Linked DNA regions of Homo sapiens. The protein of the gene in region 3 interacts with the protein of the main gene of each other region in a pairwise test. Each region holds a gene or a part of one and is shown on either strand. Other genes may lie near its edges.

The links.
Region 1: the proteins of WFDC2 (region 3) and PTN interact in a two-hybrid assay, tested with the Homo sapiens proteins (one large-scale study listed by BioGRID and IntAct).
Region 2: the proteins of WFDC2 (region 3) and CYB5R3 interact in binary tests that used the Homo sapiens proteins (3 or more experiments, as listed by UniProt).
Region 4: the proteins of WFDC2 (region 3) and GORAB interact in binary tests that used the Homo sapiens proteins (3 or more experiments, as listed by UniProt).
Region 5: the proteins of WFDC2 (region 3) and SLC22A23 interact in binary tests that used the Homo sapiens proteins (3 or more experiments, as listed by UniProt).

What each region holds. Positions count from the first base shown.
Region 1 is NC_000007.14:137,227,410-137,234,028, reverse strand, and holds part of PTN (pleiotrophin isoform 1 precursor), read left to right. Parts: intron 1-5,953; coding exon 5,954-6,009; 3' UTR 6,010-6,619.
Region 2 is NC_000022.11:42,624,053-42,630,671, forward strand, and holds part of CYB5R3 (NADH-cytochrome b5 reductase 3), read right to left. Parts: intron 4,230-6,619; coding exon 4,100-4,229; intron 3,637-4,099; coding exon 3,553-3,636; intron 3,338-3,552; coding exon 3,252-3,337; intron 1-3,251. UniProt on the Homo sapiens protein: Catalyzes the reduction of two molecules of cytochrome b5 using NADH as the electron donor.
Region 3 is NC_000020.11:45,470,874-45,477,492, forward strand, and holds part of WFDC2 (WAP four-disulfide core domain protein 2 precursor), read left to right. Parts: intron 1-6,619.
Region 4 is NC_000001.11:170,546,069-170,551,771, reverse strand, and holds part of GORAB (RAB6-interacting golgin), read right to left. Parts: intron 1-5,703.
Region 5 is NC_000006.12:3,285,057-3,291,675, forward strand, and holds part of SLC22A23 (solute carrier family 22 member 23), read right to left. Parts: intron 4,811-6,619; coding exon 4,708-4,810; intron 2,036-4,707; coding exon 1,803-2,035; intron 56-1,802; coding exon 23-55; intron 1-22.

The DNA.
Region 1 (6,619 bases), on a different chromosome or scaffold from region 3:
GTGAAGTTATGAGTAATCTCTCTCTCTCTATGTATGTGTGTGTGTATATATATACATATATATGTATATGTATACGTGTACATATACATATATATGTATACATATATACATATATGTATGTGTGTGTGTGTGTGTGTGTTTCTTTGGTTTTTATATGAGTCTGTAATACTTTTTAAATGAGACAAGTAATTAATATTTTTTAAGAAGAATGAAATAACCCCAAGAGGAGAAACCCTCCTTTTCCTTCAGGGTAAATCTACTGTAGGTATACTCTTTCTTTCTAGTAATTCATTCTCCTTGTGGCTGCTCTATTTTTCACAACACATGTCTCTGGATTGTAGTAGTAAATTAGCAACAAGAAAACCAGGTCTCAAAACCATAAAAATAGCTGCCACATACCCATGATCTTTAATATAAATATGTACTTTAAAGCACTTTACAATTTTGAAAGACTCTCCCATAAAGCCACCTTGAAAGTGTTGTTTGTAATGTCAGCTGTGTGAAGGCAGAGTTTTGTCTTGTTCACCTTTATACCCTAGCGTCTAAAACAGTGGAGATGGAGTGCATATTTGCTGAATCAATAAATTAATGTGTTTTGAACATTAGTGGTAAGATGAGATTGCAGAGGACATAATCTCACATGATACTAACACTGGCCCTCTGAGGAGGATATAGGTTTTATTATCCCCAGTTTATAGGAAACAGAGGCAGAATGATTGATCTGCACAAGATCACAGAGCTGGTAAGTGGCAAACATCTATTTGAACCAATTCTCTAGATTAGGGCTTAGTTCTTAGTATGATTCTAACAAAACTTCATGATTTTTTCATTGTCTCACCGTACCTAAAGGCCATGGTGTCACTTAATACGTTAGCATTTATCAAGATTTTGTTTTCTATTCAGCATAGAAAAAAACACATGGGCTCAGAATTGTAACACGGCTCATATTAATTTCTACTCATTCTTCTCACTGCATTTACTGTATTAGCCCATTCTCGTGCTGCTATGAAGAAATACCCAGAACTGGGTAATCTATAAAGAAAAGAGGTTTAATTCCCTCACAGTTCCACATAGCTGGGGAGACCTCAGGAAACATACAATCATGGCGGAAGGCACCTCTTCACAGGGTGGCAGGAAAGAGAATGAATGCAAGCAGGGGAGATGCCAGACACTTATAAAACCATCAACTCTCATAAGACTCACTCACTATCACAGAATAGCATGGGGGAAACTGCCGCCATGATCCAATTACCTCCATCTGGTCCTGCCCTTGACACATGGGGATTATGGGGATTACAATTCAAGGTGAGATTTGGGTGGGGACACAGAGTCAAACCATATCACTGCCTGTCTTCTTTCTTATCAGGAGTTGTTATGCATTCAAAGAATTTCCTTGGATAAATTCTGAGTTTTCTAGATTGAATATGGTGAACATGGCCCTTTGGATCCTATGATTCATAGCAATGTAAGAAGCCTGAATCCTTTCTAGAGTACTTTTTCTTAGTAAAGCCTTAGGACTTTCTGAACACTTTCAAACGTATCTTAAAACAATGTATTTGTATTTAAAAACCCCCCACAAAGTTACAAAAATACACACCTACTATTTTTTCTCATCTCTGTATCCCAATTATTATGAGTACTAGCCTCTATCAACTCAAAAACTGGCCAAAGAAAGGATGAAAGTTTGAAAACCCAGGAAGTTAAAATCTACCCAGGGCACTGCTGTGAGATTCCAGTGCAGTGATGTCCTGGTAGGAACAGAACAAGTCACCTTTCAGGCAGGTGCCCTTTACTTTCACATGTTGACAATGGCTCATTCTCTGTTTATATCCATTTCTGCTTTGCAGCCTCAATCCAGGCAGGGACAAGGGACATGTGGCCCGGGGTGTTATTTGATGTGTGGTGTATGTGTACTTCCTTCTCTTGATTTGGCTCTGTTCAATGTGAACTAAAGTGCCCTACTGTTCACATCAGGGTAGGAATCCTATTGGCTCTCAGAACCTTCTAGAGTAGCCGCTATATGACTTCAATAAAAAAGCACTTGGCTTTAACTAATTATAGCCCTGCTCCAGGCTAATTTGTGACCCACATCTCATAGTAAACATTTCTCTCTAACCTTGAAAGGCGACTAAACTGGGACAGTTTTACCCACAGAGTTTAATCAGGTCTCTATTCTAAAGACAAAGTTTTAAGAAACCTGGATAAATTTCATATACGTATGTTTGTAAGTTTTCTTCTTCATAAAATATTTGTCTTTAAAGATAGACTGAAATTTGACAAGATTCTAATTGGATTTACACTCCTTACTTTCCTTGAGAAATACTCTTTTCTATATAGTAATGGGTTGAACTATTTCCCATTCAAGTATTCATTTATCCACTCCGCATGCAACAAGTATTTCATGAATGCTTGTTATATCTCAGGCACAGAATATACAGTTGCAACATACAGATAGGGTCTCTATTGTCATAGGAAAGGAAAAACACATACCAAATAATTAGAGACAAAATTAATAGTTCAATTCTAGTTTTGGAAAAATCAATGGGAGGCACAATGAGAGTGTCTGTGCACGGAATCTGCTTATCTGAGAGCTCTTGGAGGGCTTCCCTGAGAAAATGCAGTTGAGGCTAAGATTTTAAGGATGACTAGGTGCTGACTGTGCAAATTGGGGTAGTAGGAGAAGGAACACTCAGGCCAAGAGGAAATAATATGAAAAGGATAAGATGGAAAGAAGCAAAGAAAAGTCAAAGAACCGTCATAAGGAAGATGGGTGAGACATATTATCACCATGTTATGGATCCATTTATTTTCACTAAAGCTTTACTAATCAGCTTTTACACACAAGGCCCTGTGCCATGGGTTGGAGGTACAACAGAGAGTAGAAACTGCACCCTCTCGCAGCTTGTATTTTGGTGGCAGTTACAATGCTAGAGATAGGTGCTCTAACAAGAGCAGGAAAGAGAAACAACTTCTAACTCACACTGCGAGGTCAGCAAACTAGAAGTGATGTCAATGCTGGTACCTGAAGGATGGGAGGCATTAATGAGACATGTCGTAGTGGAAGTGTGGGGTTGATGAAATGAAGAGTGAATTTGAAGGCCAGAGACTAGAGAGAAAAACAGACAAAGAGAAAAGATGTATTTGGGGAACTAAAATAAGCATAAGTATGAAGATGGAAGTAAAGAGGGGCAATGTGAATGTTTCAGTTTCTTCATCTATTACGTAAGGGCGTTGGACCACGTTCTTTCTAGGTCATAGATTTTGTGATACTATTTTAAACCCATCATGTATACTAGGTAAAGATTGAGAGGTTGTTAATAAGTTTTTGAGGCCACAGAGATAAGCAGTGACAAAGCTCATTTAGTCTTTCAGTTGAATGTACATAAAAGTCACAAAAAACTGCTTTCGATTGGAAGCAATATTACTGACCTGATTTTTTTTCACAAAAATTTGAACACTTTGTTATGTAAAAAACTAAACTGACCTTATTGCAAATATGAATTCTTCCCTCCTTCCACTACTTTTTACTGAAGACTCTTTATTTTTCTCTTTAGATTGAGCCCAGAGTAGACTCAAGTTCTGCAGGGTGTCCGGACAGTACCATGATTACTTGCCACTTGTGTCAGAAGAATAAGTTGATTGACATTGTACAGATTTAATAAGCAAATTGTTGATTTCCTGGTATTTAGCAAGTTGTCAATTAAGGAATAAGACACCAATGTCAGGTTCAGGGTTACCTAAGAATGTGCTCTTGCCTTTACCAAGAAGAATTTGGTGACAGATTCCTATTCCCAAAGTGTTCTTTGAAATGGACAACCTTACATTAACAGATCAAATAGTGTCCAATGTTCAGAATAATTTTAAGTTTTATGAAACTTTTATACAAAAACCTGGTTAGTATGTCATCTGCTCAGACTTATGTATGAAATAGGAACATGTTAGCCAAAATATGAAAATTGCTACTTAGATATCCACTCTACTGGAGACCTAGAAGATAACAAGTTCCTGAGGGTTTTCCAGGAAGGGACATGAGGAAACTGAGAGAGGGAAAACCAGAGTTAGGTCTCAGTTGAAATCCTACATTGTTCTCTGAAGATACCATCCTAATATACAGCTGTTGCCTAAAATGTTGACCAAAAATTGGGAATTATTACATTTTCAGACACTGAATAATTTTTCGGAAATTACACATAATGTCTCCTTTGATCTAAAATGTATCTTTCACTTGGAAATTCTGGTCATTACACCTCTCATAGGGTGAAAGAAAGATATTTGAGAAAACAAACAAAAATAGAGAGCGTGAAAAGTTAAATTTCTTTAGTATAGAAATGGGGCAAACTTGGGAAGTCATGAATGGAATGAATACAATTATGGACAACAATTTAGCCTGGGTTTAGAAACTGCTGACCCACTTGCATATAGTGTACCCTTGAAGTTTGAGTAAAGGAAGATTAGGACAATTACATTGAACAGAAATACTACTAGTGTGTAATGGACTTTGGAACCTACTTGAAGAGGTCATGAAGATAGTATATAGAAATGGAAAAGTTTCCAGCTCTACTTAAGTATGAGCTGAGAAATATACAATATTTCTAGTTGGCATCATATCATATCTTCTGTCTTCATAAGTCTTATGGTCCTCTTGGACACAGGCTGTATGCTCCAGTGAACAATGACCTCATCCCTGTTGGTCATTGTTTTTGTCCCAGTGACCCTATGTTGCTTAGCACATTCATTGACCTGCTCAATCAATATGCCTTGATAATGATTAAGGATTTTAATTATACAGGGTAATGATCTCTTGTTCTTGCTCTATTATCACCCTAATGATAAATGCTAACCTTAATTGAGCACATGCTATTGTATCATGTTCTGTTCTCAGTAGATTTTATAGAACAGGTTTAATTTGGATATAAACCGTATGCTTACTATCATATGCTATGGTACTTTTCATATGCCTATTTAAAGATGAGTAATCTAAGAAACAAATACATTAAGTAACTTTCTCAGTGTCTCACAGTAACTTAATGATGTGGCCAGGATTTAAACTTCAGCAGTCTGACTCCAGAGCCTGTACTTAACCAGTATATTTCTGCCACTACTATGGACCAAATTGGAGAAGTGGCTCAGAAATATTTAGCAATATCCCCTCACTTGCTAACCCAGTGATTCTGACCATTTTTGTCTTTGGAGCCAAATTAGATGTGTTCTATTCTACATTGCATTCTCCTGTTAGGAAAAGAGAAGTGGAAAGATGGTTGAATGGAAAAGAATGGAGTCTTTTGATTGAAATCCTCAATGTTTTACTTTCCTACAGCCTATGTTGACACATTCCATTTGTTTTACCCCAAACTAGGAGTTCCTGTAGGCAAAGCTCCAGAGAGAGTACATATGGTTTATAGCCGGTTCTTTTTACATAGATAGCTGGCCAAATATATAAGCAGAGGGCCGACCTGGAGTGGAACCACTTTGCAATTGTTTGCTCAGAAAATATACTATCAAAGAGTCCTACGGAAAGGGAATGGGGGAAATGAGGGGCTAAGCAGAGCTCTTGTAGTTTTCCATTGAGCAGTGACCTGGGTAATTTACTAAGAGATGTCTGCTGTATTTCTATTTTCTAAGCAGGACCCCAAGTCAATATCTTGCCTATCAAACAAAGGCAACCAGTAAGATAACAGGCATTTGTAGAATTAACACAGAAGCAGGCTATGTTCCTCCTGCCCACTCTCACAGGCACTCTTTTGTCAAAAGCAGACAGACAGACAGACAGACACACACACACACATGCACATACACATAGTGTTTTCTCAGTTTACCAAGAGAACTACCAAGAGCAAACAACTTGTGTATCAGTCTGGTCAATTATAAGAAATGTGGCTATTTCTTCCCTGCAATTTAGTAACTTGACATTTTTCTCTTTCTCTCTTTCTGTCTCTCTTTTTTGTAATCACAGCAGAATCTAAGAAGAAGAAAAAGGAAGGCAAGAAACAGGAGAAGATGCTGGATTAAAAGATGTCACCTGTGGAACATAAAAAGGACATCAGCAAACAGGATCAGTTAACTATTGCATTTATATGTACCGTAGGCTTTGTATTCAAAAATTATCTATAGCTAAGTACACAATAAGCAAAAACAAAAAGAAAAGAAAATTTTTGTAGTAGCGTTTTTTAAATGTATACTATAGTACCAGTAGGGGCTTATAATAAAGGACTGTAATCTTATTTAGGAAGTTGACTTATAGTACATGATAAATGATAGACAATTGAGGTAAGTTTTTTGAAATTATGTGACATTTTACATTAAATTTTTTTTACATTTTTTGGGCAGCAATTTAAATGTTATGACTATGTAAACTACTTCTCTTGTTAGGTAATTTTTTTCACCTAGATTTTTTTCCCAATTGAGAAAAATATATACTAAACAAAATAGCAATAAAACATAATCACTCTATTTGAAGAAAATATCTTGTTTTCTGCCAATAGATTTTTTAAAATGTAGTCAGCAAAATGGGGGTGGGGAAGCAGAGCATGTCCTAGTTCAATGTTGACTTTTTTTTTTTTTAAAGAAAAGCATTAAGACATAAAATTCTTTCACTTTGGCAGAAGCATTTGTTTTCTTG
Region 2 (6,619 bases), on a different chromosome or scaffold from region 3:
TGTCTAGCCTAAGGAGCCCCTCAAAGCTGCTGCTGAAGGGGCGAAGGCGTTCGCTAGAAACTCAGTGTGTCAACTGCTTCTGCTGTTGTGAGGAAATGGGCTCGATGTCCCGAGAGTGGGAAAAATGGAAAAAACTAAAGGCGGCCAAGCTGCGCGACAGCAAAAAGGGAAGAGACGGGAAATGTGCCAAGATACTCCAGGGGGTCAGCCCGGGAGCGGGTGTAACACATACAATAAGCAATGGCCCCGTGAGAAGGCTCAGGATTTGCACCCTCAGCCCTCCGGCAAGTCTTTTTGCGTTCTGGGATCTCATTCAGGTTGTACCTCCAGAAACCAGGAAGTACAGACACCACTCCCCACCCAACCTGGCCCCCTCGGGCCTTGCCCACACCCATCCTCCTGGCTGGCCTGCGGCTCCCCCACCCCCACCCGGCTGTCACAGAGCCCTACAGAACTCAGTCCAGCGTCATCCCTTCCAGGAAAGCTTCCTGGACCCTCCAGGGGCTATCAGGGATCTCCCCCTGAATCCCCCACCCGACTCCCCGCCCCCCACCCCCGTTCCACCTCTGATCACATCACAGGCTGCTGCCCAGCGTTTGCAGGTCACACAGGGACAGAAGGGGCTCCTTAGGTCAGTGTGCAGTGTCCCTGACCTCAGGGAACTCAAAGAAACCAGGGGCCAAAGAGCGCTGCCACCCAGAAAGGGCTGCCCACTAACAAATCGCTACTGAGCTCCCAGGCTGGGCAAGGGCGGGGTGGACTCTCCCCAGGAGGCAGCCACAGACGTGACTCCTCTGTTCCCAGGGCTGGGGAACTGCACCCACCCTCCGCGTAGCCCAAGGGTGCCTGAATACGGGAATCACCAGCTCCTTGGTGCTCCCCTCCAGCAGATGAGCTGTGTGAGGGGCATAAGCCTCAACACATCCCAGGGAACACGGGGTGTTGAACAGTTTTTCCAGTTTCTGAGGGTGGGAGGCTGAGGGCCCTTTCTGCCCTAATGGGGTGAGGACAGGGACAGGGACAGGCTTTGGGCTAGATGAACTCAAGGAAAAAAATACAGAAAATATGGAAGAAAAAGTACCTGAAACCCTTCAGAAATAATGACTGTTAGGATTTTTGTGTGCATCTTTTCACTTTTCTTTTTCTATTAACTATGTGTAACTTTCTTTTTAGGCCAGGCATGGTGGCTCATGCCTGTAATCTCAGCACTTTGGGAGGCTGAGGTGGGTGGATCACTTGAGCTCATGAGTTCGAGACCAGCCTGGCCAACATGGTGAAACCCCGTCTCTACTAAAAATATAAAGAATTAGCTGGATGTGGTGGCGGGCACCTGTAATCGCAGCTACTCAGGTAGCTGAGGCAGGACAATCGCTTGAACCCGGGAGGCGGAGGTTGCAGTGAGCCGAGATTCACGCCATTGCACTCCAGCCTGGGCAATAAGAGTGAAATTCCGTCTCAATTTTTTTAAAAAAAGTTATGTCTTCCTCTCTGAGCTAAAGTGTGTCTCATGCTTTAATCCTCACCACCATCCTTTGAGGTGGCCACCGCCGCGACCCACCTGACAGATGAACAGAGGGATGGAACCTTGGGGGGCTGCTACTCGAGGGTAGGGGGCTCCCAGCTCAAAACCAGGCACTGAGGTCACGGAGGAAGGTAGGAGAGGAAACGAGCAGCAATGACCCGACTGGCACGGTTCTCGGAGTGTAGCATGGGGACCCCTGGGGTTGGGACCCTGGAGAGGATCCCTGAGGCCAAATGGTTTTCATATAATACTGAGACACTGGTATTTTTCACTCTTCCTCTCTCAGTAGATGGGGCCACTTTCCAGAGGCTGCGTGACTGGCAACATCACACAGATGGGATGTAGAAACAAACACAGGAATCTAGCTGTCCTATGAAGCCAGACATTCCAAGGTTTGCAAAAACGTAAAACAGAATGATGTTTTCTAAAATAGTTTTTTAAAAATAAAAATAGGCTGGGTACTGTGGCTCACGCCTGTAATCCCAACACTTTGGGAGGCTGAGGCGGGTGGATCACCTGAGGTCAGGAGTTCGAGACCAGCCTGGCCAACATGGTAAAACCCCATCTCTACTAAAAATATAAAAATTAGCCGGGCATGGTGGCACACATCCTGTAATCCCAGCTACTCGGGAGGCTGAGGCAGGAGAATCACTTGAACCCGGGAGGCGGAGGTTGCAGTGAGCCAGGATTGTGCCATTGCACTCCAGCCTGAGGGACAAGAGCGAGACTTTGTATCAAAATAAATAAATAAATAAAACCCTGGTTTGCATCCTGGTTTCAGCACTTCCCACGAGACATGCACAGTCAAGCCCCTCCCGGAGCCTGTGTTCGGAGGTATGAGATGAGGCGACCACACTGCCCTCGCTACCAGCTGCAAAGATGGCCTGTACAGGTGACAGACGGTCTGACGGCCTCCACAGACTCTGAACCAGCACCACCAAGTCTCACTGCTGCCCTCTCTCCCTCCACACCAGCCAGCTTAGAATTTCTGGCTCTTTCTCCCCTGGGCCTGGCAAGGCCATCTTGGTTGGCCTTGCGGCAGTTTTCTGCAGCTGCGGGGAGGCAGGGTGGGGCAAGGACCCACATCCAAGGACCTCAGGCAAGCATCTTCTCCCCCAAATCTACGTCATCAGTCACAAAACACTAACCTGAAAAGACCTTGCAACAACCCAGTTTCATCAGCTCATTCTACAGATGAGGGAGTGAAGCTCAGAGAGGGAAAGTAGCTCGTCCAAGACCACACAGCAGGCCAGGGCGGGCAGGCAGGCAGTGGGCTCGTGGACAAGGATATGAATCAGGAGCCAGAGACACCAACATTCAAATCCTGCCCTGACACCCTGTAGCTCAGGGGCTTCGTGCAAATGTCTGGTCATTTGTAAGATGGGCCCCTCCATGTCCAGGCCAGCATTCTTCCCACTCTACCAGTGGGTTCCACACCGTGCTCATGGTGAAGGGAGTTCTGAGTTTTGGAGGAAGCAGCCAGGGGAGGGGGTGCTCAGGGAGCTCCCCGCAAGGCAGCCCCCTCAGCCAGACACAGGCGCTGCACCACAAAGCCTGCCCGCCGTGCTGCTGCCAAGGCCGCCAGTGCACAGAACATTCAGGGCCCCCCATCCCGGTCATCCCCAGAATCTCAGCAGAGCTGTGCAGACCCCTGGAACAGCACCTGACCAGGCCCGAAGTCCCCTCTCAGGGTAAGCTGAGTTTCCCCATCATGGGGATGCCCACTGACCTGGTTGGCAAAGAGCAGGTGGCACACAGTGTGGTCATCAGGGTCCTTCATGATGGCGCGGATCACCTGCAGCATCGGGGTGATGCCTGCAAAATAGCCGGCCGGGCCTCGCACGTGCTGAGCGAGGCCTGTTCACAGGCACCGCCCCGCCCAGGTGTACTGGGGTGGAGGGGCCAGGACCACTGGGCCTGGGCCCCTGACCTCTGGTAGCTCCCAGGCACTCAGAACCTGCGCCTCACCCACACCCCAACCCCACCCTTAACATGAGCCGCCGGACGCCTCAGTGGGGGGTTCCGTGTACCTGTCCCTCCCGCGATCATGCCCACAGACTTCACTGTCCTGATGATAGGGTTGGACTTTTTGTCAGGTCGGATGGCGAACTTCCCTGGGGAGAGAGAAGGGGTGAGGCCCGGCCATCAAACATGCCATGTGTGGTGGCTGGAGAGGCTGGAGAGGGGGCTGGAGAACCTGCCCCCACTGTGAGGTCCGAGGTAGAGGCAGCTGCCATTCTAACGCGAGCCATGAGGAAGGTGCAGGAGCAGTGGAGAGGCTGGGAACCCGGAGGCTCAGCTCTGTCCTCTTGCTTGCTTGTTTCAGATGCTGAGAAAGCCAAATAGAGGCTGGCAGTGGGTGAGACGTGGCCCCCAGGAGTGGCCTGTCTGCAACCCCTGTGCCAGCAACTTACCCCCTCTACAGCCAGGGAGACTCAGTTCCCAGAGAGGGACAGCTGGCCTGACGAGAGTCACCCATCCACACAGAGCCAGGGGCCTGCACCCTGCACCCAGCACGCCCAAGCTCTCCAATTCTCTGAGCCTGCCGTGTAACCAAGGGATTCCGACCCGAATCACCTTTGCCCTGGTAGACCAGCAGCCCACTGGGGCCCCGGAACTCAATGGTGTCTCCAATCTGCATGCTCTCCAGGTACTGAGACATCTTCCCTCCAGCGGGAAACTTGGGATGGGTGTCCTTGAAGTAAACCTGCAAGACACCCCCGCAGCCCTCAGTCCCCAGCTCCAGGTCTCAGGGGCGAGCTCTTGCCCACAGTGGGAGACAAGTGCCTCTTCTGCAGCTTCTTCTGAGGCCCACACATGGCCTTCTCCCGTGGAGCCCCATCCACCCAGCCGTCAAATCCTACCTGTCCTGCACCCCGTCCTTCACCCCGTCCTCCCAGGAGTCAGCCTCCACCTGACATATCCGGGGAAAGCAAACCACCAGCCTCGTGTACAAGGCCGACCAACTCCAGGGCTGGATGCACTCACATTTCACCAACTGTCTCTGGGGCCCCCTCCCAACGGGAGACACTGAACCCGTCAGCAAAGTCAAGGCTCTGGGAGGCCCACTAAGCCACACTCCTCCTGGTGGACACTCAGTCCCTTCCGTTTTGTGCTGTCGCTAAAAACCTCCCTCACTCTTGGGACTACTTCCTGCCCTGCACTCTCTAGGATTACTGTCTTGGGAAAGAGAAGGGCCTCAATCCGACACCTACAAAGAAATGGGGAGACAGAGGAGGAGCGGCTCACCCTGCCCAAGGAGTCTGATGGATGGAGAAGGGGAAGGTGGCTGGGGGAGGGACAGCGTGTACACAGTGCCTCAGGGAGGGGAGCCTGTTGTGGCTTCAGCACAGAGGGTGGCTATGGGGTGTGGAGGCAGAGGGGAGTGGAGGGCCACGGACAGGCAGGCAGAGCACACTGTCCTGGGCCCTGGGTGCCAGGCCAGGACTCTAACCTTTATCAAGGACCAAGGGAGCCAGCCAGGTCTCCAAGCCAGGAGAGGCCTGGTCACCTGTGAGTTTTTCATCCTCAATTTGAATCCTCCTAATAGCTTCTCCACATTTGGCCAGAGAGACTTCAACGTGAACAGATGCTTGAGCCCTCATCACCTCCTCTGTGCTTCTGGACAAAGCCCCAAACCTTACTGGGGCCTCCAAGGCCCCGTCTGGCCCCACTGACCTCTCCCACCCCTTGCCCCAACCCTCCAGCCACTTCAATCCTTGAGCCTGCTGCTGACTTCAGGGCCTTTGCACCTGAAGCTCCTTTTCTTCCTTCTTCACCTGGTCAGTGCCTACTCAGCCCCAGATCTCACCTTCACTGTCACCTGCTAGGGAGCCACTCTCACCAGCCAACCCCACCCATCCCTGGTGGCCCTTCTGGAAGCTCGGTCGCAGGTACCTGTCCCCTGCAGGGAGCACTGGCTTCCCCATGACTATGTGTCCAGTGTCCGTCCTCCAGCCAAAGACGGGCTCCTGAGGCCAGGCCTGGGCGCCCCAGCAAGGAAGGAGCCCGGGCCAGGGCCCTTCCCACCCTTCAGATCCAGTGCCTGCCCCCAGACCTGGCAAGGTAAGGGCCTCAGCTACGGCCCAGTAAGGGGGCTCCAGGGGTACCTGAGGGTGCTGGGCTGGGGAGGCTATAGGGCTTTGGCCTTGATTGGGGAGGGTCTCCAACACCCCACATACCCACTGGTCTAGGCTGCTTCTCACCCTCTGTTCTGCAGGAAAGCTTGTATTTCTTTTTTTTTGACTGGCTCTCATTCTATTGCCCAGGCTGGAGTACAGTAGCATGATCTTGGCTTACTGCAACCTCTGCCTCCCAGCTTCAAGTGATTCTCCTGCCTCAGCCTCCCAAGTAGCTGGGATTACAGGTGCGCACCACCATGCCCAGCTAATTTTTTTGTATTTTTAGTAGAGACGGGGTTTCTCCATGTCGGCCAGGCTGGTCTCTAACTCCTGACCTCAGGTGATCCACCCGCCTTGGCCTCCCAAAGTGGCTTACAGGTGTGAGCCACTGTGCCTGGCTGAAAGCTTGTATTTCTAATTTTCATAAAAACGTCCCTGCTGGGGCCGTCATGCTGCCTCTTACTTCCCACTCGGCATGTGTGTTTCAGGTTCCGGGCTGCTGCCCCTAACGCCTGCATCTTCTCCTGTGAACCTCCACCTCGAACCCCGCAGCAGACCCCAGAAAGCCCATCACCCCAGCTCCCAGACAACACCACACGAGCCCCTCACATGTTTCCCTAGCAGGCCTGAGGGACATTTCTTAGGGAAACGGGTAAGAACAGGGCCTGCGTGTCACAGAGGCCCGGCCGCTGACCACGGTGGAGTGGCTGCCTCACCCCGCACACTCGGGACCCAACTCCCAGGGATCTCCCAGCGTGAGAGCAGGGACGGGACTGCGCCGTCACACCTCGCAGCAGGGGCGTCTGTACCGCCAGCCGGCCTTCCTGGAGCCTCTGCTGCAGGTACCTGTCCTTGTTTGAAGGCACTTGCCCTGAACCCTGGCCCCTGTTCTCTGCCAAGACCCCCTTCTTTGGCTTTTGTTGGTAAAGATGACGTGCTATTTACTCAGAAACCAGGCACAAGGGAGCACTGGGTC
Region 3 (6,619 bases):
GGGAAAGCCCGGAGCCTGGGGCGCTCACCTCTCCTCTTGGAGTCCCTCCCTGGGGGCCTCCCCCAGCCCTGGGGAAAGACTGGGAGAGCCTGGCCTGGCAAGATTTTCCCCAATTCCTCTGTCCAGGCGGAAAGGAACTTTACAGATTTAGGAAAATGCCCCGCTCATCTTAAAGATGTGTAAGGGAGCATCGGTGAGAAAAAAATGTTCTTGCCCAAGGTCACACCGCCATCCCATGGCTGCTGGAGTCATAGTGAGGGTTCAGCTTTTGCCTTTCAGGCCAACTGGCTGAGTGATTCGAAGAAAGTGAGGAATCCTCCCTGGACACTGTATCGCCCTTCGTCGTCTTTCAGTCAATCTCTTCCACTCTAAGGATTGAGTGAGCGCGAGCTGGGGACTCTCTCAAAGGTGCTTGCTGGAGCTGCAGTCTCCACCAGGCTATCAGAACAGGGGGTGGCTTAAACAGCATGGAATCTCAGCTTTCCGTTCTCCAGAGGAAAATGCTGAGGATTAGAGGCAGGGATAGGACCTGGAGAGAACCAAGGTACTGTAATGATGTTCTTTATCCAGAATACAGCCCCTGTGACTTTTCCTCTCTGTTATTTCCTTGAAGATGCCAGCACAGGCTGGGAAGGTTTGTAATACGGTGACCCAAGACACCGATCAGCAGGGAGGTGGTAAGTGGAGGGGGACTGGCAGCCCACCAAGGGCAGCTTCAAGGTCATGAGTCCCCTCCTCTGGGCCAGGGAGAGGAGGACCAGAAGGAGAGAGGAAGATTTGGAGAGAAAGCAGGCAGCAGCCAGATGAGAGAGGTGGAGGAGCAAAGGAGGGAGTCTTTGCTGTTTGATGGATGAAGAATTTGTTCCCTTATCTCAGATGGACAGACTGAGGCAGGAAGAGGGACAAGGTCAGATGGCCTCCTGAGCCAGGGAGGCAGCCTGGAGGTTTGAATCCTAGTTCTGCCATTTTCTAGTTATGTGATCCTGAGCATGTTGTTTACCTCTCTGAGCCTCTGCTCTAAGATGGGAATAATTCCAAACTCTATAGGATTGGCATGAGGACTAAATGAAATAATGCATCTAAAGTGTCTATTAGTGAGAAGATACTCCATACACAGTGGCTTGTTTTGATCATAAATGGTTCCCTATTTATTTCCAGGGCAGCCCAATATTACAGGTTCCTACTCCTTTCAAGAGAATGAATTTCTTTGTATTAGGAAGTCAAGACTGTTGGCAACTTAACAACATTTTTTTTTGTATTTATGCTTTAAGTTCTGGGGTACACGTGCAGAACGTGCAGGTTTGTTACATAGGTATACATGTGCCATGGTGGTTTGCTTCACCCATCAACCCGTCATCTACATTAGGTGTTTCTCCTAATGCTATGCCTCCCCTAATTCCCAACCCCCCGACAGGCCCTGGTGTGTGATGTTCCCCTCCCTGTGTCCATGTGTTCTCATTGTTCAACTCCTACTTATGAGTGAGAACATGCGGTATTTGGTTTTCTGTTCTTGTGTTAGTTTGCTGAGAATGATGGTTTCCAGCTTCATCCATGTCTCTGCAAAGGACATGAACTCATCATTTGTTATGGCTGCATAGTATTCCATGGTGTAGACGTGCCACATTTCCTTTATCCAGTCCATCACTGATGGGCATTTGGGTTGGTTCCAAGTCTTTGCTATTGTGAACAGTGCTGCAATAAACCTATGTGTGCATGTGTCTTGGGCATTTGCGTTGGTTCCAAGTCTTTGCTATTGTGAACAGTGCTGCAATAAACCTATGTGTGCATGTGTCTTTATTGTAGAATGATTTATAATCCTTTGGGTATATACCCAGTAATGGGATTGCTGGGTCAAATGGTATTTCTTGTTCTAGATCCTTGAGGAATGGCCACACTCTCTTCCACAATGGTTGAACTAATTTACACTCCCACGAACAGTGTAAAAGCATTCCTATTTCTCCACATCCTCTCCAGCATCTGTTGTTTCCTGACTTTTTAAGGATCTCCATTCTAACTGGTGTGAGATGTTATCTCATTGTGGTTTTGATTTGCATTTCTCTAATGACCAGTGATGATGAGCATTTTTCATGTTTGTTGGCTGCATAAATGTCTTCTTTTGAGAAGCATCTGTTCATATCCTTCGCCCACGTTCTAATGGGGTTTTTTTCTCGTAAATTTGTTTGAGTTCTTGTAGATTCTGTATATTAGCCCTTTGTCAGATGGATAGAGTGCAAAAATTTTCTCCCATTCTGTAGGCTGCCTGTTCACTCTGATGATAGTTTCTTTTGCTGTGCAGAAGCTCTGTAGTTTAATTGGATCCCATTTGTCAATTTTGGCTTTTGTTGCCATTGCTTTTGGTGTTTTAGTCATGAAGTCTTTGCCCATGCCTATGTCCTGAATGGTATTGCCTAGGTTTTCTTCTAGGGTTTTTATGGTTTTAGGTCTTACATTTAAGTCTTTAATCCATCTTGAGTTAATTTTTGCATAAGGTGTAAGGAAAGGGGTCCAGTTTCAGTTTTCTGCATATGGCTAGCCAGTTTTCCCAACACCATTTATTAAATAGGGAATCCTTTCCCCATTGCTTGTTTTTGCCATGTTTGTCAAAGATCAGGTGGCTGTAGATGTGTAGTGTTATTTCTGAGGCCTCTGTTCTGTTCTGTTGGTCTATATATCTGTTTTGGTACCAGTACCATGCTGTTTTGGTTACTGTAGCCTTGTAGTATAGCTTGAAGTCAGTTAGCGTGATGCTTCCAGCTTTGTTCTTTTTGCTTAGGATTGTCTTGGCTATGTGGGCTTTTATTTGGTTCCATATGAAATTTAAAGTCGTTTTTTCTAATTCTGTGAAGAAAGTCAGTGATAGCTTGATGGGGATAGCATTGAATCTATAAATTACTTTGGGCAGTATAGCCATTTTCACGATATTGATTCTTCTTATCCATGAGCATGGATTGTTTTTCCATTTGTTTGTATCCTCTCTTATTTCGTTGAGCAGTGGTTTGTAGTTCTCCTTGAAGAGGTCCTTCACCTCCCTTGTAAGTTGTATTCCTAGGTATTTTATTCTCTTTGTAGCAATTGTGAATGGGAATTCACTCATGATTTGGCTCTCTGTCTATTATTGGTGTATAGGAATACTTGTGATTTTTGTACATTGATTTGTATCCTGAGACTTTACTGCAGTTTCTTATCAGCTTAAGGAGATTTTGGGCTGAGATAATGGGGTTTTCTAAATATACAATCATTTCATCTGCAAACAGGGACAATTTGACTTCCTCTTTTCCTAATTGAATACCCTTTATTTCTTTCTCTTGACTGATTGCCCTGGCCAGAATTTCTAATGCTATGTTGAATAGGGGTGGTGAGAGAGAGCATGCTTGTCTTGTGCCGGTTTTCAAAGGGAATGCTTCCAGCTTTTGCCCATTCAGTATGATATTGGCTGTGGGTTTGTCATAAATAGCTCTTGTTACTTTGAGATACCTTCCATCAATACCTAGTTTATTGAGTGTTTTAGCATGAAGGGTGTTGAATTTTATCAAAGGCCTTTTCTGCATCTATTGAGATAATCATGTGGTTTTTGTCATTGATTTTGCTTATGTGATGGATTACGTTTATTGATTTGTGTATGTTGAACCAGCCTTGCATCCCAGGGACAAAGCCAACTTGATCATGGTGGATAAGCTTTTTGATGTGCTGCTGGATTTGGTTTGCCAGCATTTTATTAAGGATTTTCGCACTGATGTTCATCAGGGATATTAACCTGAAATTTTTTTGTTATTGTGTCTCTGCCAGGTTTTAGTATCAGGATGATGCTGGCCTCATAAAATGAATTAGGGAGGAGGCTCTCTTTTTCTATTGTTTGGAATAGTTTCAGAAGGAATGGTACCAGCAACTCCTCTTTGTACCTCTGGTGGAATTCGGCTGTGAATCTGTCTGGTCCCAGACTTTTTTTGGTTGGTAGGCTATTAATTACTGCCTCAATTTTGGAACTTGTTATTGGTCGATTCAGGGATTCGACTTCTTCCTGGTTTAGACTTGGGAGGGTGTATGTGTCCAGGAATTTATCCATTTCTTCTAGGTTTTCTAGTTTATTTGCGTAGAGGTGTTTATAGTATTCTCTGATGGTAGATTGTATTTCTGTGGGATCAGTGGTGATATCCCCTTTGTCATTTTTTATTGTGTCTATTTGATTCTTCTCTCTTTTCTTTATTAGTATGGCTAGCAGTCAGACTATTTTGTTGATGTTTTTCAAAAACCCAGCTTGTGAATTCATTGATTTTTTTTGAAGGGTTTTTCATGTCTCTATCTCCTTTAGTTCTCTCTGATCTTAGTTATTTCTTGTCTTCTGCTAGCTTTTGAATTTGTTTGTTCTTGCTTTTCTAGTTCTTTTAATTGTGATGTTAGGGTGTCAATTTTGGATCTTTCCTGCTTTCCCTTGTGGGCATTTAGTGCTATAAATTTCCTTCTAAGCACTGCTTTAGCTGTGTCTCAGAGATTCTGGTATGTTATGTCTTTGTTCTCATTGGTTTCAAAGAACTTATTTATTTCTGCCTTGATTTTGTTATTTACCTAGTAGTCATTCAGGAGCAGGTTGTTCAGTTTCCATGTAAGGTTATGCGGTCTTGAGTGAGTTTCTTAATCCTGAATTCTAATTTGATGGCACTGTGGTCTGAGAGACTGTTAGGATTTCCGTTCTTTTGCATTTGCTAATTAGTGTTTTACTTCCAATTATGTGGTCAGTTTTAGAATAAGTGTGATGTGGTGCTGAGGAGAATGTATATTCTGTTGATTTGGGGTGGAGAGTTCTGTAGATGTCTATTAGGTCTGCTTGGTCCAGAGCTGAGTTCAAGTCTTGGATATCTTTGTTAATTTTCCGTCTCATTGATCTGTCTAATATTGACAGTGGGGGTTAAAGTTTCCCACTATTATTATGTCGGAGTCTAAGTCTCTTTGTAGGTCTCTAAGAACTTGCTTTATGAATCAGGGTGCTCCTGTATTAGGTGCATATATATTTAGCATAATTAGCTCTTCTTGTTGCATTGATCCCTTTACCATTGTGTAATGCCCTTCTTTGTCTCTTTTGATCTTTGTTGGTTTAAAGTCTGTTTTATCAGAGAATAGAATTGCAACCCCTGATTTTTTTTTGCTTTCCATTTGCTTGGTAAATATTCCTCTATCCCTTTATTTTGAGCCTATGTGTCTTTGCACTTGAGATGGGTCTCCTGAATACAGCACACCAATGGGTCTTGACTCTTTATCCAATTTGCCAGTCTTTGTCTTTTAACTGGGGCATTTAGCCTGTTTACATTTAAGGTTAATATTGTTATGTGTGAGTTTGATCCTGTCATTATGATGCTAGCTGGTTATTTTGTCTATTAGTTGATGCAGTTTCTTCATAGTGTCGATGGTCTTTACAATTTGGTATGTTTTTGCAGTTGCTGATTCCAGTTGTTCCTTTCTATGTTTAGTGCTCCTTTCAGGAGACCTTGTAAGGCAGGCCTGTTGATGAGAAAAATCCCTCAGCATTTGTTTGTCTATAAAGGATTTTATTTCTCCTTCATGTATGAAGCTTACTTTGGCTGGATATGAAATTCTGGGTTGAAAATTCTTTAAGAATATTGAATATTGGCCCCCACTGTCTTCTGGTTTGCAGGGTTTCTGCAGAGAGATCTGCAGTTAGTCTGAAGGGCCTCCCATAGTGGGTAACCCAACCTTTCTCTCTGGGTGCCCTTAACATTTTTTTCTTCATTTCAACCTTGGTGAATCTGATGATTATGTGTCTTGGGGTTATTCTTCTCAAGGAGTATCTTTGAGGTGTTCTCTGTATTTCCTGAATTTGAATGTTGGCCTTTCTTGCTAGGTTGGGGAAGTTCTCCTGTATAATATCCTGAACAGTGTTTTCCAACTTGGTTCCATTCTCCCCATCACTTTCAGGTACATCAATCAAACATAGGTTTGGTCTTTTCACATAGTCCCATATTTTTTGGAGGCTTTGTTCATTCATTCCTTTTCATTATTTTTTCTCTAATCTCATCTTCATTCTTTATTTCATTAAATTGATCTTCAATCTCTGATATCCTTCTTCTGCTTGATCAATTCGGCTATTGATACTTGTATAGGCTTCATGACGTTCTCGTGCTGTGTTTTTCAGCTCCATCAGGTCATTTATGTTCTTCTCTAAACTGGTTAATCTAGTTAGCAATTCCTATAACCTTTTTTCAAGGTTCTTACCTTTCTTGCATTGGGGTTAGAACATGCTCCTTTAGCTTGGAGGAGTTTGTTATTACCCACCTTCTGAAGCCTACTTCTGTCAATTTGTCAAACTCATTCTCCGTCCAGTTTTGTTCCCTTGCTGGCGAGGAATTGTGATCCTTTGGAGAAGAGGTGTTCTGGTTTTTGGAATTTTCAGCCTTTTTGTGCTGGTTTCTCCCCATCTTCGTGGATTTATCTACCTTTGGTCTTTGATGTTGATGATCTTTGGATGGGCCTTCTGAGTGGACGTCCTTTTTGTTGATGTTGATGCTATTCCTTTCTGTTAGTTTTCCTTCTAACAATCAGGCCCCTCAGCTGCAGGTCTGTTGGCGTTTGCTGGAGGTCCACTCCAGACCCTGTTTGCCTGGCTATC
Region 4 (5,703 bases), on a different chromosome or scaffold from region 3:
CTTTACAAAGCTGTTTTTGAGTGAAGGCAGGCTAAAAGGTTAATTCAGTGGTATGCTAGTTCTGGGGTGGGAGGATGGGGAGCCCTGATTTGTAGCGTTTACATTTCCATGGGATAATTACTACCACCCTGTCCAATTTCAAGCCACCAACGTGATATTACTGAATGCAGAACTGGGAAGAGATACACAAAATCCACATGAACCAGGGTAAGCTAGCTTCAGCACACAGCTGGTTAAATTTATGAGAAGACAGACAAGAGATGGAGAAAGTGGAAAATTGTTCTCTTGATTAATAAATTAGAAAAAAAGAAAAATTCTGATGGAGAAAGATACGGACAGTGGTCGGGAGATGAATATAAATGGAACAGAGCACACCCAGCAAAATGATACTGGGTGAGGGCAAGAAGTAAACATCAAGTAGAAAACCTCAGGATAGCTATATGCAGGATTTCTCAACCTTGGTGCTACTGACAATTTGGGCCATATAATTATTTGTTGTGAGAAGCTGTCCTGCACTGCAAGATGCTAAACAGCATCACTGGCTTCTACCCATTAGTTGCCAGTAATTCCCAAAATTTATGACAACCAAAAATGTCCCCAGGCATTGCCAAATGTCCCTTATTGGACACAAATGCTCCCAGTTGAGAATCCTTGGGTTAAGTTGTTCTCATTCTCTCCACTACTCCTCTTACACTCTTACTAGGAAATTTTACATAGTTACACATGTATAAACTCTGTTGACAGGTAATCTTATGTGAAGTCTTATGTGAAATAGGGCAATTCTACTAGAGAAGTCACCTTGCAATCTCACTTTTTTTCTTCTGCATTAGGTCAGTACAAAAAGAAGAGTTATCGTGTCTTAATTTATTGTCTTTTGCCTTTTCTATAAAATTTGTTGCTTTTCTTTTTGCAACAAGAGGGTCCTTCCTCTCTTGCAAGAAAAAAGATTGATTTCCAACTAGTTCTTTAATTTCATTACCATTAGCAGTTGTGAAGGCCATGCTGCTTTACCTGTTATGAGTGCCTACATCAACTTAGTGTAATAAGTAGCTTCTAGTACAAGAGTTATAGCAAAAAAGAAACAGGTATATCTCCTAATTTAGGATTCTCTGTCTTGGAAGAAAATACAGTGAAAATAATAAATGGCTTTCATTTTAGAAAACTCAGGGTTCAAAACCTTCCTGACATTTACCATGTGTACCCATTTCGGTCAAGGCTTCTTGTGGATACAAAGAACAGATATCCAGTCAAACTAGCTCAGGTAAAAATTGGGTTTTATTGTAGGATACACGAGGCAATTTCATAGTCATGTCATCAGAATCAAAGGCTATTCTTTTCAATGCTTAGAAGCGACACATTTTCTCTCATTTCAGCTTTCCTATCATACTCACAGGCCAATATGGCCACCACCTGCACTCTGTATCAAATTCACTCCACCCAATCTCTCAGTGATCCAATTCCACACTCTCAGAGGAGAACATAGGTTTGCCCGGCTCATCTCAGTTTAAACAGAACTCTTAGTGTCAGGCCATGCCGTGAACCACTATTTAGCCTATGGATTAAATGTACTGGAGTCGGTAGCCCATCACTATTCTAATTAGGTATGCCCCAGGTCAGCATCCTGAGTCCAAAACACAGCCAGGTTCCTCTGGAAGGGGTTGGGGAAGAGGCATGCAATAACTGAAAATTCCGGCACAGTGACTCTGAGCAGTTACTTAAGCTGAGTCTTGGTCTACCTGTAAAACAATGATGATAATAATACCTCATAGGAGTTTTGAAGATTAAACAGTATAAATGGGGCAAACTTCCAGTTTTGTGCCTGGTAGGTGCTCAAGAAACAGAACTTCTCATTTAGAACACCAGAATCAAAAAGTACTGTTAATATATTAGTAAGCATGAATCTAAAATTAAGATTATGGAAAATTTAGGGACCTGGTATTTATACTTGAAAACTCATTTACATAATGTTAATTTATCCTATTTCCTTTTTTAACTGTAAATATAGTAAATGTAAAAATGAGAGCACCCATTATCTTTCAATAACCCTCTATGTTAAAAGAATTGTTCTAAAGGAACTCTACTGGATACCTAGTTCCCTTATCTCCATACTTTATAACATACCCTGTTCATGTAATGTTCTTGCAACAAGACAAGAGTTCTGACATTCTCTATAGGTGTATGAATACCCTGCCCTGACCCTGCCTCAAACCTCCCTTTTCTGCAAGTCTGTGGTCTCCTTCAGCCAGTCAAAGTCAATCAGTAGAGATTTACAGTCTGGATTCATGAATACTGAATTGAAATTAACATTTGCGAACAGGTCCCTTGGTTTCCATTGATCTATCACCCTGGATAAATCACTGAAGATTTTGTATTTTGTTTATTTATTTAAAGTCCTTCTGGCCAGAAATACGAATATATATTCTCCCACAGAGTGATTTAATGTTTAAAATATTGATTAGTTTCACAAACTGCACTACCAGCCTATGGTCAGGTGGGTAATACCAAATTAGTGTATGATGACATTCTGGAACAAAATAATAAGAGCATTATACATAACACAGTAAGACAGAGTGAACTGGAAATGTAATTATAGAACTGTTTTGTTATTTTAAAGGGGGATGGAATGAATTAATGAATGTTATTTTTAAAGGATTCTAGAAATTGTCTCTTTGTTTTGGTATCCCCTGAAATGTTTAAAAACTCAACCATTAACCCTCAGTATACCACTGGGTTCCACGGGTCCACTTTTAGTTTTTCAGTTCCTTTTCTGAGCAGTTCTCACTATTTGTATAAATTAGCATTTCATAATTTTTATCTTTTCTTAAGTCTTTCAAATAATGAGAAAATTTACTTATTTAAAAAAACAGAATAAAATAAATTATATTTTGCAATTACCAGAGAGGTCCAAAGAACCCTTTCATAAATCTAAGATATATTATAGGATTATTGCAGTATTTTTATATTTCCTGTATCTTGAAACATTTTGCCATTTCATCATCCTAGGAATTATTTCATCATTACTTATCAATTATTCCCTTTTGTAATAAAAAGAAATTAAAATAAGAAAATGATCTGAAAGGATGATGCAATAACTTATCATTGTTGAGCTTCTTTACTGTGCTGTACAAAGTATCATGTCACCTCCAGAAAGTATAAAAGAAGACTGAAAACACCATTTTTGTAACCTGTTTTTAGTTTTCATTTTCTGCCTATCCAGTATTTGCAAAGTGGAGACAACTGACAGAGGAAGACATCTTGCCACTGTTAAAGAAATCAAAAGATGAATGGTGTGGTAGGCTAAAAAATGGCCTCCCAAAGATATTCACTTTCTAATTCCTGGGACCTGTGAATATTACTTTCTATGACAAATGAGTGAAAATTATCTTATATGGAAAAAGATGTGATTAAGATAAAGGTTTTGAGGAGTTTATTCCAGATTATCCAGCTGGACCCTAAGTGTAATCACATGCATCTTTTTAAGAGAAAGGCAGAGGAAGTTTAGAGAGAGAAGAAAAAGCAACATAACTATGGAGGCACAGAATGGCATGGCGTGGCCACAAGCCAAGGGATGCCCACAGCCACCAGAAGCTGGAAGAGGCAAGAAATGGATACCTAGAGTCTCTGAAGAAATCACAAATCTGACACCTTGATTTTGGATATGTGGCCTCCAGAAATGAAAGAGAAGTAATTTCTGTTGTTTTAAGTCACCCAGTTTGGATTACTTCTTATGGTAGTCTTAGGAAACTAATACAAATGCAGAGACACATTCTAGAGTCTAGATGATAAAATCGATCATATGTGAAATCTCAGATGAGTCTTCAGCAAAACATATCCTAGGTGAATTTTCTCAAACTTAAGAATCAGTCAGTAAAAAATATATTTCTAAGCATAGAAAGGAAAAATGATTTTATCATAGAGTTAATCATTTCAGCAGGGAGAACATACACCCAATATTTTACAAGTATCTAGACTATCTTGTGTTGCTACAAGGATGTAACTATACTCTCTCAGCTTTTTATGTTTGTGAGTCAAACATTACTTGATACAAAGATGGTTACCATGCTTACATTCTTATTAAAATTTTAAAGTTGTTTTACACAATCCCTTTTAATCTTACTTTTAAAAATTACTCATAAAGTGATTTAAAAATATTCGTCTGTGGGTGTATGTTTGCATGTATGAGGGTGTCTATGAAACCTAGATGGTCAATAGTGATTTAAAAAAATGTTCTACATGCAGCCACTCTGGATTTTATAAACTGGTCTGCACAGCATATGGCAACATTGTAATCCCAGTGGTGAACAGTAGCAGTAGTAGCAGTAGCAGCAGTAGCAGCAGTAGCAGCAGTAGCAGCAGTAGCAGCAGCAGCAGCAGCAACTCTCTCAAATTGGCTCAAAGTGCTAGTCTTCTCAGAGGTGTCTATCCAAACACTGCTCTACAGAAGCCAATTTTAAAGCAAGTTCTGGCCTATTCACTATCCAAGAACCTTTTGTGGACATAGCACTGTACCAAATACTATAGAACTAAGATATCATTTTTATTAAAAAAAGAAAAAACAAGGAAATCTCCCATAAAAACTGACTGTCCTAGGGATTATCTTTCACTTCAAATCTGGACCATAATATTATTTTACCGATCTGTAATTTCTCAATAACCACAAATGCAAGTTTAGAAAATAATACCTTAATCTTACGCATGAACAAGACACACTACGGTTCTAGTCACCAAAGTCTTTGTTTCCCTTTGACTCAACGCAAGAGCTTCGGCTTTTGAAAATAGCAGCACATGGCCAGGCGTGGTGGCTCACACCTGTAATCCCAGAACTTTGGGAGGCTGAGGCAGGCGGATCACCTGAGGTCAAGAGTTGGAGACCAGCCTGGCCAACATGGTGAAACCCCATCTCTATTAAAAATACAAAAAATTAGCCAGGTGTGGTGGTGGGCACCTATAGTTGGGCTACTCAGGAGGCTGAGGCAGGAGGATCGCTTGAATCTGGGAGGCGGAGGTTGCAGTGAGCCAAAATCGCACCACTGCACTCCAGCCTGGGCAATAAGAGTGATACTCCGTCTCAAAAACCTAAAAATAAAAACAAAAATAGTGGCACACAACATCTACTTACATTCAACTACATCAATATTAGTACCATGAGAAACTGTCATCTGTAACTTACTAAAGATTTAAAAATTTACTAAAATTTCATTTAGGATACTTATAGACTATAGGATGTTTTTTCCTTTAGTAATCCCACCTTCTTTGTTGTGGTTCTTAGAAGGCTAAAACTATGACATTTCTTATATAATACTGAATATGAAAAAGCGTCTTTCTCCAGTTTCCACTAGGACAAAATTAAAATCAAATTACTTTTCTTTCTTTTTTTTTTTTGAGACGGAGTCTCGCTCTGTTGCCCAGGCTGGAGTGCAGTGGCGCAATCTTGGCTCACTGCAAGATCCGCCTCCCAGGTTCACGCCATTCTCCTGCTTCAGCCTCCTGAGTAGCTGGGACTATAGGCGCCCACCACCACGCCCAGCTAATTTTTTGTATTTTTAGTACAGATGAAGTTTCACCGTGTTAGCCAGGATGGTCTTGAACTCCTGACCTCGTGATCCACCTGCCTTGGCCTCCCAAAATGCTGAGATTACAGGCGTGAGCCACCGTGCCCGGCCTCAAATTTCAACTGAGGTACCTAGTACTTCTACCTTATAA
Region 5 (6,619 bases), on a different chromosome or scaffold from region 3:
AGCCCACGCGCTTGGGACTCACCTGAGTCTGGGTGCTGGCTGTACTTTCCAATCACTGGACCCGCAGACATGATCGCACCCACACGGACAAGGGCCAAGCAAGCGAGAAGAGAGAAGAGAGCACATTAGGTGTGGAGTTAGCCTAGCGTGTTCCCATGCGACTTGGTTCAAGCAAACTCCCTTCCGTGTCTGGGATGGCGCTGGCCGCCGGGGCAGTGGAATTCATACTGCGCTAAACAAAGATCTTTTTGTTAGGAAGACAGGAGTGAGACCCTGCTGGCCTCAGAGCCTGAGGAGAAAATGGAACCTTCACAGTGAGACCCCAGCAGGTGCAAAGGGTGAGCTTCCTTGCATGTAAAGTCACCCACAGGTCACTGCCGCCTGCATTCAAGCTGCGTCAAGTGCTGTGGGGTGCCCCTGCCAGCCCCAGCTCTGCTCCTCACGGCTGCTTGGTGTTCGCCTGGGGCTCCTGTGCATTCCTGCTCAGGGCCAAAGGGGCACCACAACACCCGGGGGCTGAGGCACCCTGCCACTTCCGTCCCAACTGTGTGAGCAGGAGACTCCCTGGAAGGGCAGCTGGGGAACGGGGATGGAGGGAGACAGGCGCCACGTGTGCAATCCATTAGCTAAGCCTAACAGCAGTCTCCCAGCAAGGTATAGATTGCATAAGAACTGTCCAAGTTAGAAAGCTGCTCCTGAGTTTGAAGTGAGCCATCTCTAATCTAGGCTGCACGACAAGGCCGCTCTGATCTGGGTGCGGTGGACAGCCCTGGCGTCTAGTTCTGAGAGCCCGGGTTCATTTTCCTTGTAAAGGCAGGGGAGCTCTGTGGGGTCGATGTTCCCGCAGTGTCCTGAGCCTGTCCCAGGAGGACCGTGCCAGGGTGGGAGAAGAGGCTCATCGGTCCTGCCTGTTCACGTCGCGCCCTGGGCTGGCCACGGAGATGCTGTGGTGGTTTGTCCATACACGGGAATGGGTATTTGTTGGTGAGGAGCTATACAGAGCTTGCTGGAAGGGCCAGATGGACTCTCTAGCTTTGCCTTAGATTTTTTTTTTTTTTTTGAGATGGAGTCTTGCTCTGTCACCCAGGCTGGAGTGCAGTGCTGCGATCTCAGCTTACTGCAACCTCTGCCTCCCAAGTTCAAGTGATTCTTCTGCCTCAGCCTCCTGAGTAGCTGGGACTACAGGCGTGTACCACCAAGCCCAGCTAATTATTTTTTGTATATTTAGTAGAGATGGGGTTTCACTACATTGGTCAGGCTGGTTTGAACTCCTGACCTCATGATCCGACCGCCTCAGCCTCCCAAAGTGCTGGGATTACAGGCGTGAGCCACCGCACCCGGCCAGATTATTTTTAACCTTTACTGAGAAATTCTTTGGTCCAAAGAGAAGCTGATGAACTCGGGAACATCTGCTGAAAAGCAGGGCCCTAATGCAAGGGTGACAAAACAGATTTATTTCCCCCTTAATGTCACTCGAAAGAGACAATCCTTTGTTCTTCTTGGTCATGTGATGAATCACACAGAAGCAGTCTACCTATTAGCAAAGACTGGGCCACCAGGACTCGGAAGGAATCATGGTGCAGCCCGGGCCGGGGCAGGGGCAGGGGGAGGCGGGAAGGCCCAGTGCCCTCTAAGGCGGGCTCCACAGATGCTCTCAACTGAAGCTCTGTTCTCCCCAAAGCAGCTCCTTCCAGCAGTAGATTTTAGAGTGGCCAGCGGAGTCTTATGCAGCCCTTTCAAATGCCCTTGGGGATCTGCCAGCTTCCCTCCCTGCACCCAGCCCACCTCCCCGACCCACTCACGGTTGAGGAGGCCGAGCTGCAGGAGTGAGGCCAGGGCGGTGAGGATCATGAAGAGCAGCAGCCCTCCCCTGCGCCCGAGGAATCGGACCACCACGCACATGGCCAGGCAGGACACCAGCGCGATGCTGGCCGTGGTATAGTAGTCAGCATAGAAGTTCTCCAGGAGCGGCACCTTCACCTCGTGGCCCATCATGCTCCTGGCAAAGCAGTGGTGGATCCCGTACCCCGTCAGCCTGTGGAGACATACCGAGCGGCAGTGGGTGGGCTGCCCCCATGCCAGGGGCTGCGCTGCCTCCTGGGAGTTCGTGCTGTCAGGTGACCAGGAGATGAAGAAGCAACTCAATGTGTCATAGAAAAGCCCATCATGACCGAACCACGAGCAGATTACAGAGCCAATGCAAAAGAGGAGACGTGGGAGAAATATGGAATGCTTCTCCTGATGGAGGTCCAGGCTCATGCCCCACTACCATGGCTTTAATAGACAGGTGTGGGCACAAGAGCAGTGAGTCCTTTTGTTAAAACACACACTTTCATGGGAATCCTCCAAGACAAAGCGCTTTCCAGGTACTGACTCATTTAACCCAGGGCCGCAATCCAACAGCCACTGCACACCCACTTCACAGGGGCAGGGGGGCAGAGCAGCTCGCACGAGGCTCTCGGCGGGTAAGCGGCAACTCAGAGACGCAGCTTTTCTGGGCACTTAGGGTTCTGGAAGGGTGGAGATCTATCCATACCAGCCTCAACTCCACCCACACAGCCTGGAGGAGTCGGGCAGAAGCCAGGCCAATGGAAGACATATAGGGTCCACAGGAAACTGTTTTTTTTTTTGTTTTGTTTTGTTTTTGAGTAGAGCCGTGTTCTGCTACCCAAGCTGGAGTGCAGTGGCAAGATCTCAGCTCACTGCAACCTCCCCCTCCCTGGTTCAAGTGATTCTCCTGCTTCAGCCTCCCAAGTAGCTGGGATTACAGGCACCTGCCACCATGCCCAGCTAATTTTTGTATTTTTTGGTAGAGACAGGGTTTCACCATGTTGGACAGGCTGGCCTCGAACTCCTGATCTCAAGTGATCCGCCTGCCTTGGCTTCCCAAAGTGTTGGGATTACAGGTGTGAGCCACCGCACCCGGCCTCCGTTTTGATTCTTAATTTATCCCTGTTTCCCCTCCACTGCCCTGGGTCAAGCTTCTTTATTGCCCCACACGAGCGTATCAACCTGCTGGAAAAACGTGTCTGCCCTGAAAACAGGAACAAAGGCGTGGCTGCACCCTCCCACGGAGGCTGCTGATGGCCATCCATGGGGTGCCTCAGGGCTCTCAGGAACCTTTGGGGTGTACCTGTGATGCACCCGTGGTGCCTCGAGGGACCCTTCTTATGTCTGCTCTTGGCAACCATCCCAGAGCCAAAAACTGCCCCCTTCTCTCCCCAAACACCCTTTCGTGCTTCAGGGAAATCTACGTCCTTCTCATCTAACCTTGAGAATGCATCAAGGTCAACTGTAACAGACCCCGTCCCTGCCCCATAGGGGGAAGCCACCCCTTGCCAGGTGAATGCCTTTCCTCTTGGGAAATAGGCAGAGGCCCCAGCCCCCGCACAATGGCTTTATAATCCAGCAACTGATTTGGTTCAGTTAGCCTCCAGAGTTCCTCTTCTGGCCTGCTGAGATAGCAGGGCAATCTCCTACCTTCTTGCTCTGGTAGAAATGAAGTCTCCCCTGACCACAACAGGTCATCTGAAGATAACAGAGCCAGAGAGCTCGGTTCCCCGTCTCCACAAAACGAATCATTAAAATGGAAACTCACCATCTTATGTCAAATTTCATGTTTTTTTCCAACATAAAATGTAGAGAAGCCGTTCAACTCCTAACAGTGCCGCCAGCTCACCCAGCATCTACCTGAACCAGGCAGCAGCAGAGTGGCCAAGGCTGAGGCCCTGGGCTTGGCCTGATGTGGCCGTGGCCGGTCCCTGGCCTTGGTCTCTCTCCTGAGCTCAGGATGAGGCTCTACTGTTGTTTGGGCAGTAGAGCCTCTTGTACTCCTCACAAATCAATTTCAACCCAGAACCCCAATATGGAGAACTGATGAGCTGCTTTGACAGAAAAAGCCATGGGGGATGCTTGGCCCCTCGCCCTCACCCTGGGCCTGTCTTTACCTGGTGGCAGCTCGAGACCTTTCACAAATGAGTGCAACACCCCAGGTGACCTCTAACCCAAATGAGTCAAATCCCTTCCCTCCGCCACCTTGGTGACCTCTGACCCTGAACAAGGGACCACCTTGCACAGTCAGGGCCACTGAGCTCAAGACAGGAGTGACCTTCTAGGTACACACCAAGTCCAGGGACTGGGCTGCAAAGAACCTGCGTGAGTGATGCCCCCAGCCCCTGCAGGACCCAGCAGGCGGGGCGACCTGGGCCGGTGAGGGCCCTGGGAGGAGGTCTGCGCTCACTGGCCTGGCTCAGGCCCACCTGCCTCCACCCACGGCTGTCCTGGGGCCTTTGGCCAGGCTGGCTGCAGGTTCAGGAAGGGCGGGGCCGGCTACAGGCAGGGGCCAAGGCCTCATGGGTCTCAAATCCCCTGTCCTGAGACAGGGCCCAGAATTTCCAGCCTTGTGGCATCCCCCACTGTGCCCCTGAGGAGGTGCGTCCATGTGCATCTTGGTTTCCTGGACCTCATGGGCACGTGGTGGGGAGGCCCTGCTCACAGGATTTACACGCCTGGGCTGGGGGGCACCGGCTGCTTGAGGCTTCCGGGAGCGGGGGAGGTCAATATCTTCTAGCCCGTGTCACTCTTCACACACACACCCTTAGGATTCCAAGTTCAGCGGGGTGGGGAGCAGGGCCCTGGGCTTCACCACTCCCCACCTTCTTCCCTGGCCCCCTCCCACCCAGCTGGCACTTGTCCTCTGTGACTCACGAGTTCACACACAGGACCACAATGTTCTTCCACAGGTTCCGTGTCCCCACCACCTTCACGATGCAGACCTTCTTGGGCCTCCGGGAAAGCTCTTTCTCCAGCTCTGCAAAGAAACAGACCCTGTGAGCCCTGGGCAGGCCGCCCACAGAGGACAGGACAGCAGCTGCAGTCACAGCCCTGGTTCCCCAGTTCGGGTACCACAGAAGGGAGAGAGAAGCTTTTTTTTTTTTTTTTTTTTTGCCAGTGGATAGGGTCTAGGTTTCCAGGATAGAAAGGCACTCATAAGACCCCAGCTTTGCAGTTCAGGTTTCGCTCGGGTGCCTGAGAGGGCACCAAGGTGCACCGTCAGCAGAAGTTTCCATCACAAACCCTTGTTTTGGAACCAGTCAGAGTGCACACAAACGGTCTCGACTCAGTTCACTTTTGTCTGAGTACAGAGCTCAGCGATGATATTCTAGGTTACTGAGGCACTCATTAGGCCCTGGGCAAATCTAAACATGCAGTTCTTTTCCGTACACTCTACATCTGCCTGTGTCACCCCCGGCTCGGAGACTGGGAAGGCCACATGCAGATATGCTTCTTAGCCTTGTGGGGTGGAACTATGGCTGTAGCTACTTCTGCTGAAACTGCCCTTAGGACATCATATGCATCTTTGAAAGCCAAATACATAAGTGAACACATCTGCGTGTATGTGTATACACCATACATGCACACATTCATACGCATGCATATACGTGTGCATGTTTTAGTTAACAGAAGTCCTTGGGGGCTGGACAATATTTTGGCTCCAAGGGATGTGAGCAACTATAAAGTCATGAGACTGAGTTTCTTGTGCGGCTCCAGCGGCTCTGAAAGCCCCTCTGAAGGGAGTCCACCAGCGCACAGTGTTACATTCACCAGGCCAAGGGGTCTGCAGAGGTGCTGGTGTTGATCTGGCAATTTACAGGGAAGATTCAGAATGGTGGGGGTGCTGGCCTCCAGGAGCTGTCTGCTTGCACGTCTGGGAGCAGGAATGCCACCTCAGCCTTCTGTTGCCTCTCTGCCTTCCTAGCCTGGCATGTCTTCATGGAGTAATCCCCTACTGGGGAGCTAAAAAAGAAAAGGGAGACTTCCCGAAGCGGAGGGGAACCAGGACTCTTCAAGACTGTCAAGGTCACCAGAAACAAGAAAGACTGAGCAGCTGTCAGACCAGGAGACTAGGGAGAGGGGAGGACAAGACGCAGTCCTGGGCGGCATCCCGGGTGGGAGGAGTCGTCATGGAAAGCACGATGATGGGAGGCACCAAATAAAGGCTGGGGTTTGGTGAATGGTAGTGTTCCAATGTCACTCTTTTAGTTTCGACAACAGTACCACGACAGTATCAGACATTCGCAATCTGGGAAGTCGAGTACTGGGAGGTCTGTCGTTGCCTCTAGAGGGATCCTTCTGCTCCCTCGGGGGCTGTGTCTCCAGGACCCTGGCCCTGTGCTTCCGAGGGCCACTCTGAACCCTGGATGGCTCAAGTTCAACCCTCCTCTTCCACCTCCTTCCTGCCATCCAGCGGTAGGAGGGTCACAAAGCTCTTTCATTATAGTTTGAAGAAAAAATGTGTTGCTAAACCGTAGGGATTTGAATAAAGCAATGATGTTTTTATTCAAACATTGTTTTTGAACTGAGTGTCACCAGCCAGGGCACAGAAGGGAGAAGGAGAAACCTTTCACTTGTCTGAGGGAGCTCATGTCTACTGAGTTTCCAGAACTTTCTCCCTTGCCATACTTGGGTGCAAAGATTGAGGTCTGTGTGTAAGCCCACAGGGCCGGCGTTTCAGCTGCTGGTCCACGGACCCTCTCAGCTCCCAAGGTCCATTATTTTTCCTCAGCAAAAATGGGCTACTTTGACTACAGGCACAGTTTCTCCATGGTTAAAATAACTA